Regions from separate parts of the Homo sapiens genome. Here region 2 is linked to region 1. The links come from fine-mapping of genetic effects on gene expression. A gene starts in region 1. The other region holds a variant in brackets. All regions are shown on one strand. Distances are from middle to middle. Region 1 holds the start of RDX (radixin). Region 2 overlaps RDX (radixin).

Region 1 (5,000 bases):
CATAAAATGAGCAGTGAGGATGACCAGAGATCACCATCATTGCCATCTTGGTTTTGGTAGATTTTGGCTGGCTTCTTTACTGCAACTTGTTTTATCAGCAAGGTCTTTATGACCTGTATCTTGTGCTGACCTCCTATCTCATCCTGTGACTTACAATGCCAAACCTCCTGGGAATGCAGCCCAGCAGGTCTAAGCCTTATTTTACCCAGCCCCTATTCAAGATGGAGTCACTCTGTGGTCAACGCCTTTGACAATCACAGCTCACTGCAGCCTCAAATTCCTGGGCTCAAGGGATTCTTCTGACTCTTCAGCCTCCTGAATAGCTAGGACTACAGACATGCCACCATGCCTGGCTAATTTTTATAATTTTTTTTGTAGCGATGGGGTTTCACTATTTTGATCAGGCTGGTCTTGAAAATCCTGGGCTCAAGCGACCTTCCCGCCCCAGCCTCCCAAAGTGTTGGGATTACTGGTGTGAGCTTCAGCACTGGCCAGTTATGAACATTCTTTTTGTTTTTTTGCTTTGTTTTTTTTTGAGAGGGAGTCTCGCTCTGTTGCCAGGCTGAAGTGCAGTGGCATGATCTCGGCTCACTGCAATCTCTGCCTCCCGGGTTCAAGTCATTCTCCTGCCTCAGCCTCCCAAGTAGCTGGGATTACAGGCGTGTGCCACCACACCCAGCTGAGGTTTGTATTTTCAGTAGAGACGGGGTTTCACCATGTTGGCCAGGATAGTCTCGGTCTCCTGACCTCATGCTCTGCCCGCCTCAGCCTCCCAGGAAGTGCGGGGATTACAGGCATGAGCCACCATGCCCTGCCATGAAAGTTCTTAGGGGTTGAATCACAGTGCCAAATAGCTTTATAAAGAGATTATTTCAGTTTACACTCCCACTCACCATGTCTGAGAGTACCCTTTTTATCTCACCAGCCTTGACTGTTATCTTTCACTTAAATATTTACTAATAGGATACCCAACTAAAATGTTGCAATTTTTGGTCTGTTTGCTGTTGCAGAAGATAGGATAAAATCAAGGCTTTTGGAGTCAAACATATATTTGGGTTTGGTCACTGCTCTGCCACTTCCTAGTTTTGTTACATTGGGGAAATTACTTACCTCTTTTTAAGCTGTCTTATTCATCGATTTTTTTTAAAGGGTCAATAATAGTATTTATCCCAGAGGGTTTTTGTAACCATTAAAAGAGACAGTCATGTAAAAGAATTTCACACCAGTGTCTGGCACCTGACCAACAACAGTGAATCCTTCACTTTCAGTTGCAAAAGTGTGTTATATAATTTCATTTGATTAGTGTACTATGTAGGAATTTACATAATACTTTTTTTTCTTACCTACTTCATGGGAAGTATTACGTAATACTTTGACTATGCCTGCAACCTGATGTGGTAGGCTGAACAATAACCAGGATAATTCTTGCACCCTAGGGAGAGGTAAGGAGTGATCTTTTGGTGGTCCCTAAGAACCACAAGAACCTATTTGGTCGCAAGTCACACACCTGGTTCCCATCCTTGAGGAATTTGCTATCTAAAGGCCCTTGAGTTTAACCCTTGAGTCTCTTGGGGGCTTTTAATTGTTCGGAGAGGTCTCAAAGGGCAATAGTGGAAACTCACTGAAGAGGCAGGCTAGTGAAAGTGATTTGCAGATATTTCCTGGAAAAGCTACTGTCTCACCTAAGGTAAATGCTAAGGCAGGAAGTATAGGAGTTATTTGTCCTATAAAAGTAAGTATACTCAGGCGTTTTGTTATTTGAATCTAAAGTTTGTTCACAAAAGATAAGCTAAAAAAAGTATTGCAAACAGGGCAAGCCAGGCGAATCTGATTTTGTGCGCTTGCTGTTTGTATACTCATAGCAAGTTTTGCTCCCTGAATCATCCCAGCAGACAATACTGAGGGGACTCAGCATGGATTAGATGACAGAAGACTGATCCAGAAGTCAGGAGCTTCCTGTCTCATCCCAGCCACTAACTAAAGTGAGTGGGCTAGACTTAGTCTTAAGATCGAATGCCTAACTTTCTCTAAATCTAGAATTATGTAGGTTTGGCGGCTCTTTGGGGCCCTACTTCCAACTTTTTCTTGCTAACCAACTCCTTCCAACTGCCAAAGCATGTCGTTGGTAATAAAAAATTATCACACATCCTTGCTTGGATTAAAATTTGCACTCCTGATTTGGGGTCTTATCCATTGAGGTTTTGGTGAAGTTTGAAAATTGTCGCTGAAAAATTAAGTTTTTCTAGTTGGCTAAAACCTGCCAAAATAATGTAAACGTTCTTTGTTGCAAATCTAAATTCCGCTCAGGTAGGCCCTTTTCTCCTTCCCAGTCCAGGATCTTCAAACCTAACAGCCAAGTCTCACGCTTCATTTGGTCCCCGGCTCCCTCTGGGAAGAATTCCTCCTCTGGGGGCGACGGCAACGCCCTCAGTGAGTTTGCTGGCACCAGCGGGAGTTTCAAGTTTCCACTCGTTGGGGAGGCGGCGGGCACACTCCGAGCTTTGGGCTGGGCGGCTCCGCTTCCCTCGACCGCAGGTTTAGCTGGAGCCCAGCGCTCTCTGGAAGGGCTCGACCCTCCGGCGCATTCGCCCTATTTCCCTGGGCGCTCCCGAGCCCGCAGCCACCCACCTCGCGTTGGCCGGCCCCAGACCGCGACCCCCGGCCACGCCCGGAGCCAGGCCTGCGGCTGCGAGCCTGCGGGAGGGGCGGGGCGGGGGCGGCCCCCAGCGGCGGCGTTGGCGCTCAGTCCGCGGCGCGAGGACGGCCGGCCGGCAGGGGGAGGCGGGGGGGCGCCGGGCAGCCCCGCCTTTTCCCGCGGAGGCGCCGAGCGGCCATATTGCGGAGCTGTCTGCGGTGGCGGCGGCGCCTCTCGTCTCCCGCGGGCCAGCGCTCGCACCACCGCTTCTCCCTCCCTGTCGCAGCCGCGCCGCCGCGCAGCGCCCCAGCCACACGCCGGCGGGCAGAAGCCGCCCGCTCTCCGGGTAAGGCGCGGCGCCCTCCCTTCCCCCACTCCCCGCTCCCGGTTCCTCCGGAGACGCTAAGGTGGCGGCGCGAAGTTGCGGGGCCCGTGCTGCCCGGCCGTGGCGCCGCCGCCAGGGCTTGGCGCGCCTCCGCTCGCGCCCAGCTGGCCGAGGCGCCACTGTGGTAACGGCCCGGCCGGCCAGGCTCCTCCCGGGGCTGGTAGGGGCCGCGAGGCCCTGCCCGAGTCGTGGCTGAGCCGCGGCCCGAACGTGCCTGGCCGGGCCAAAGTCGACCTTCGCCGCCGCGGGATTCTCCTTTCCTCGGGGCGCGGAGTCTGCCTTCAGCGCCGGTGTCGGACCCCCAGCGCCCTGGGGACGGTGGGCTCCCGCTGCCTGGACTGGGCCCCGGGCCCGGGCTGGCATGGTCCCAAGGGTTGTTTGAAAATCCAGATATTCAGCGTAGGTAGAATTCGATTTTACATTTATTAGAACTTGTTCCCCGGCCTCCAGTTTGAAAGGAGGGGTGTTAAATTACTAGAGAGCGTGCGTTCCGCCCCAGTGGCAAAGGGGATGTTGCATGACAGGCTTTGGGGCGCCAGTCGCTCCCGCCGCTCGCACCCGCCAGGCCAGGGCCGCGGTTCCCGGCCGCAGCTCTACCTGCTGCTGTTGCAGCTCTCGGAGCCCTGTAACTTTCTCGGGCCCTTGAGGCCGCTCAGTTTTAGTGTCTCAGACCCCACCAGACAAGTTCAGTACATGATATCCCTCTTTTCCTTTAAAGGATTCTAAACTCAATTCCCGGACTAACTTTGAAAGGGGGCAGTGCATTTTTGTTTTTTTTTTTTTTTCAGTTTAAACAGACTACATCACTTCCTAGACAGATGTCATGTTTCTTCAGACATTCCCAATATTTGGTGGTTTTTTTTTTTCCTTAAAGAGTAGTTACTAGGTTGGAAATGTGTTAAAAGTCAACTTCATAAAAATATATTTTAAAATACATTTGAGATTTTGGTGGAAGACACGTTGCTGAGGAACTCGATGGCATTCTTGTGGCACTAAGACTGGCAGGATGTAAATATAAAAGTCTAAGATAATAAGGGTTTATTTGATAAACGAGTACTTTGACATAGACATTGTAATCTATTGTTTAAGGAGCATACTTCTTTTTTTTTTTTTTTTTTTAGAACACTAAATACTCTTTTATATGACTGATGGAGCTAAGAAGGAACAATTACCCCGTTCATGTTGCTGGATAAATAATGGCTTGATCCATTTGCCAAAACAGCATCACTGGATTTGAGAAAGGAGACTAATATTCAGGATTGCAGTTTTTTATTTTCAGAATTTCTTTGCTTTCCCCAGTGTGCTTTATCTTCCAGAGATTAATAATACTTTCCTTCAAATACAGCAACATGTAAAACACTCCTTTTGAAGTTAATCGTATGCTGTAAAGACGATTGCAGTGACTTTCTTTGCTTAATCGCTTTTTTATATATGATGGAATTTAATAAACAGTTGGTATATTATTAGCAAGGAATGAATAGACATTGGCATTCTTTACAGTTTTATTTAAATGAGACAGAATTTGATTGTGGCATTGAAAAAACGTTGAGTTCTTGACCTTAGGAATCACATACAATGTTTTGTTCACTCCTGTATCCCCACACATGGAAGAGTATGTAGGAGAGTCTCAGAAGTAGCTGTAGAATAGATGTAATTAATTTGGGTGTAGGGAAAATACGTTGAGTCTGTCCTTTTGTTTTTTTTTTTGAAATTGTGATTAATTAACTGAAAGTCAAATTGATTACTTTCCTTTTGTTGGTAAGAAATGACAGACTTTGCTGTTGTTTCCCTCCCTTGCTGAGTCTCATTAGTCTCCGGGATGGGGAACGCGTTGTCTTTTGTTTATTGGTTCACTGTTCCCAAAAGCAGAATTGGATTTTTTTTTTAAGTCGATAAATTTTTACTCAAGGAATTCCATGTTGTGATTTCTTCCACTGTCCATCAAGGTCACTTTAGATCCTCTAAAGAGCTAGAGTCAAA
Region 2 (5,531 bases), 65 kb after region 1:
CTCACCTCCTATATTTGTTTAGTTACTTCCTTGTGTCATTGACCTTATCCTTTAACTCCAGTATTTCCTTTGAACCAGAAGTTAGATCTAGAACCTGGGGAATTCAAATTAAATGTTTTGACTACAGTGCATCAAAGGTGAGACTTCCATATAATTGAACATCTAAACTGGAGTACTTTTGAGAAAAAGGGGGTATTGTTCATAATTACACCAGGACAACAGTGTAACAGGACTTTTCCAGGTAAACCAAGATAATATGATCACCCAAATAATTGGTGATGTTAGATATTTCAGGTTGTATCATATCAGAAGACACTTAATATCTAGTTAACTCACCATTAGTATTTTTTAGTGATCATTGGATTTGAGTAACGACAGTCTCATTCCTCCGTTATTCGGTTACATTTTCCCCTTGTGGCTCAAATAAAATCTATTGGGTGTGAGATTCTTAGGCATTATATGAATATCTATTTCTCATCAACTATTTGCACAACAGTTTTAGCAAACAATTGATAATCCTTGCCAGAATTAATAGTTCTTTTTTTGCATGTATGCTTGTTTTTCTTTTAATCTGTCACTTTGAAGCTCACAGAGTAATTCTAATAGGGTTTGCATAATAATGTTTTTGATTTTCTCTTTTACCTGTTGACATTCTTTTATGAAAATAGAGGTTTCATAAATAGGGCCTATTTTCATTACCTTGAAATACAGTTTCTATTAAAAAGGGAGTATAACTTGATTGTTTTGATTATTAATTTTTGAAGTAAGTTGCTCATAAACGTATTTTTAATGTTCAGGCTTTTGCAGCCCAGGAAGACTTGGAAAAGACCAAAGAAGAGTTAAAAACTGTGATGTCTGCCCCCCCTCCACCTCCACCACCACCAGTCATTCCTCCAACAGAAAACGAACATGATGAACACGATGAGAATAATGCTGAAGCTAGTGCTGAATTATCAAATGAAGGGGTAATGAACCATAGAAGCGAGGAAGAACGTGTAACCGAAACACAGAAAAATGAGCGTGTTAAGAAGCAACTTCAGGTATTTAAAATTTGCAGTTGTATGTGCATTTGAAATATAGTTTGCATTTTCCCCATCTTAGACAAACTTAGTTAAAAAGAATATAGAAGTTTTAATACTGGCTGCCCTTGTGATTGGTTTGTGGGTGTTTGGCCTATAGTCATGTTATTTCATTTCTTCCGTTGTGTGAACCCATTAGCAAATACCTGTTAGCTTTGTATAATCAGACCTTAACTAGTGAGTTATTTAATTACAGCTTGACCCATTTTAAAAGGTAGAAAGTATTCTAATGTCATGTTGAAAAACGTGAATTTAGTTTTTGATCAGTAATATGTACATTGAGGGCCAGGCGCAGTGGCTCACACCTGTAATCCCAGCACTCTGGGAGGCCGAGGCAGGTGGACTGCCTGAGGCCAGGAGTTCAAGACCAGCCTGGCCAACATGGTGAAACTCTGCCTCTACCAAAAATACAAAAATTAGCCGGGTATGGTGGTATGAGCCTGTAATCCCAGTTACTTGGGAGGCTGAGGTATTGCTTGAACCTGGGAGGTGGAGGTTGCAGTGAGCCGAGATCATGCCACTGCACTTCAGCCTGGACAATAGTAAGTGACTCTGTCTCAAAAAAATAAAATAAAATAAAATGTACATTGGAAAGAATGATAGTTAATATACTATGTTTAAGACATTACATAATCTTAATTATTTGTTGAGATTTTATATTGGCAAAAGGTCAGTATATTACATGGACATAACTAGGTCAAAGTAGAGGATTTTAATATTATGAGCTTTCTTTTTTCCCAATAAGTTATCTAATATTTTAATTGTTAAAATCTTTAAATATTAAAAGAAAATGAGGTGATAGTTACAATAAATGTATTAAGACTTTTGGAGAAGGCTTCCCTTGAGGTATAGATTTTAAATCTCATAGTAATATTAGTCTGTAATGGCTACATTGAACTTTTTAGCCATTTCAAGTATTAGATTAGAAAGTTAAGGAAATTTAGAATAATGTACAAAATACCATGGTTGATAAATGTGGAAAGGCCATGTGTATTCCTCCCTTACCACTGCCACCACTATTACTAAAACAAACTTATACCTAAAGAAAAAGGTTTCACAGTGGAAATGATTTGGTATATGTATTTTTGCATCTTAAAGCCATTTTCATAAATTTTTTTAAATCTAAGAAAAAAATAATAGTTGTACTTTTTATTTTTTAAATAGGCATTAAGTTCAGAATTAGCCCAAGCCAGAGATGAAACCAAGAAAACACAAAATGATGTTCTTCATGCTGAGAATGTTAAAGCAGGCCGTGATAAGTACAAGACTCTGCGACAGATTCGACAAGGCAATACAAAGCAGCGTATCGATGAGTTTGAAGCAATGTGAGAGCTGTTATTTTGCATATATGTTCTTCATAAGCTGAACCACCAACAGAGAAAAGCAGGCCTTTGCAGATATGATGGAATGCATCCCACCTTGCCAAAGCACTTACACCAGTTTGACTGTGCTAGCTAAAAGACAAATTTAAGGGGAGCTCTTCAACATTAAGGCAGTATGATATCATGCTTGGTTTTCTTTTTTCTTTTGGTCCAGGGAATGGAGAATGGTGTTCCATTGCCTCTTTTCACATTTTTTTTCTTTTTCTTTTTTTTTTCTGTTGAAGATTAACACTAATTATCACGTCTGACAAATGTGTATGTGTGGTTTCAGTTCTGTGTACATTTTAAAGGATAATGGTGAACATTTTAATGGGTTTCCCTTGCCCTTTCCATATTTAACCTATTTCCACATTCTCTCTCACTCACATTTTCTCAGTGTGCCCTTCTCTTATCTGCCATGTCCATAGCCATAATTCCACCATCATACAGATCAGGCAGTGTTTAAAATGATGGTAGGTAGCACAGTGGACAGTCTTTGATCATCATGTAGAATATGGCTATGAATCAGGAAAGAGATTAGAACATTTAATAATGTATGTACAGCTGGTGCTTAGTTTTTTTTTAATCTAAATTTAATTACCTTATTGGATATTTGATATTTGGTTATTTAATCACAGTCATCTTTAACAGCTTACACTGATTGGTGTTTTATCTCCTGTGATCCTTTGATGGCTTTTTTTGCCTACCATTTCACAGAGGTTTAGACAGCAGTAGTAGCTCCCTAGGAGAGTTTACTGATGAAACAGCCTCTGCAAGATTTTAAAAGTTTTGTTCTTTTATAGACTGATTTAGAAAAACAAATGATTAGTTAAAAAAAGAAAATATACATTTGTTGGTAACTAATGTTATTTTTTAAAACCTGGACCTTT[TC/C]TGGAAGGGCAGCATATAAAAACATCAGTCCCGAGGAGGGGACAACAATACTACCTCACTACTACATCTGTGATGACTGGTTGTTCAAACACAATGGAGTGTGTAAGGTATATGTTTTATAATTCATAACCATAGCCTCGATCATCAAGAAATACTTTCGAAATTTCATTTTCCTTCAGAATATCTTAAGAGTGCTAAATTTTTAACTGCCTTTTTGTCGAGTCAAACTGTGGGATTCTGATTTGTATTAAAATTGTAAGCTCCTCACTGGTATACTATCATCCTGGAGGGGTGTTGTATGGCTGAGCAAGAGAGAGAGAGAATGAGAGAGAGACTGTGTGTGTGTGTGTGTGTGTGTGTGTGTGTACTCTGTGTGTGTATGAGAGAGAGAAATGCTAACCTTGTAGCATGTGAAGAATGTCTGTACCTTGATACGATAGTTACATAATCAGTATATTTGGTTTCTAGATCACTGTGCTTATTTTGTTTCAATCTCTGACTAAAAATACTTAAATTTGGTTTGTTAATTCTTATTTTAGAAATTATAATTTTAGTTTATATTAATTTCGGTTATAGCTTACTGAAGAAATCTTTCCAGTTAGAAGGAGGTTCTAATATTCACATGTTCTAATACTTTGTTTATTGTAAAACAGCTAAATTTGGAGATACGTAAAGCCTTGTTTTCTCTGTGTGGTTCAGCTACTTTCCATTTGGTATTACACAGTCAAATTTACATTTATCTATTAAAATTGCCATTTTATTAAACATTTTCATGCACAGTAGATTCAAGTTGTGTCTGAAAATATCTCTTGTGCTTTTTTGATTTTGCTGACTTTAAAAGGATTAATCTGGGCAGACATTATGTAAAAGAAAGGTTGCGTTTAATATATTTTTTGAACTTTGTAGGACAAAACATAGCTGGTTAACCTTGAAGTGACTGTTGTACCATGGTTGTGCACATGCTTCAGAATCCTATGGAAGAGAATATTCCTACTTGCAGTACATCAAAGGAATGGATGGTGGACCCTACTATTCATGTTTTGAGACATAAATGTTCACTTTAAAGCAATTGCATAATAGATAAAAACCTGAACTTTCATTGGATTTTTGTTAATTTTCCTCATTTTGAATTATGTGCACTACCATAGCTACATCAGTTTGATACAGTATTGAAAAATTATCAGTTATATTTTGCTGTTTATGATCTATTTGTAGATTAGGATTAAAATGGATTTAATCCATTTTTAAGGCTGTGTGAATTTTTCTAAACAAGAACCATTTGCAATATGGATTTCTTAGAGATTAAACCAATTATAACTTATTAGCAGTCGCGAGCACATGTTCATATAGTCAATGTAAAAATACACTAATGAGTATTTGGTAAATCCCAGTAGGCTTTTACCATTAGCATAATTTTGTGTTGTACAATTAAGTTACAATTACATCTCTAATTTTGGATAATATTCATTGGTTAACAATAAAGTGACAAAAGCTCATGCCTTCAAGGTCCACTGTTGTTATTTAACATGGATTTTTTGTATGTTTCTTGAAAATTACAATCTTTATCACAGCCATGAATCACCACAACTTAAAAGTAAGAAGTAGATAGGAAATAATTTTAAATCCTCATAGATCTACTCTTTCCCCGATACCTCTTTGGTATGGAAGTAATAGTGATTAATTCTGTGGAAAAGTTAAATTATTAAATTAAATTGACTTTGTTGACAACAAAACGTAATTTAGGGTTTCCAGTCATTGCCTTTATTGTATAGTGGTTAGTTTCTTTTTCCTGAGGAAGATACAGTTTCTTGTCATTGATTGATCTCACTATTAACATTTCAACATTCTTTAAAGAACTGTATGCTAAGTATATTTATGTAAGTACATGTTCTTATTTTGAAGCTGTATTATAGAACAGTTACTATAAATCTAGAAATTGCCTTTTTCAAGTCTTCTTACTAATTTTTAACTTAAATAAGTGATAAATCTATAAAAATAGTAAAAGCTAGATTTTTTTGTTGATAGTAATATTTAACTGTCACTTTATTATTTCTGTTCTCAAGGACACATAGTGATTTTTTTACTCTGATCCTGTCAGAAAATGGAATTTTAAATAATATTTTGCTTTATGTCTAATTAGAGTTTTAAGAACTGGAATGGCCCCTTATAAAGTTATGTTAGATTTTATTGGAAGTCACTC

The links.
Region 2: its variant is fine-mapped to the expression of RDX in whole blood (TOPMed, PIP 0.98).

Annotation. Positions count from the first base shown.
Region 1 is chr11:110,294,448-110,299,447 of GRCh38, reverse strand. It overlaps RDX (radixin), which reads left to right and starts at 2,834. Exons shown (of 14, transcript NM_002906.4): 1 at 2,834-2,981. RefSeq lists silencers at 2,452-3,251, 3,302-3,351, 3,362-3,461, 3,592-3,651 and an enhancer at 2,865-3,737.
Region 2 is chr11:110,228,746-110,234,276 of GRCh38, reverse strand. RDX (radixin) reads left to right here. Exons shown (of 14, transcript NM_002906.4): 13 at 798-1,040; 14 at 2,244-4,836. The coding sequence ends at 2,408. Among named protein-coding and RNA genes, the nearest start is that of RDX, 65 kb to the left of the region's middle. The variant TC/C (reference allele first, on the strand shown) is at 3,331.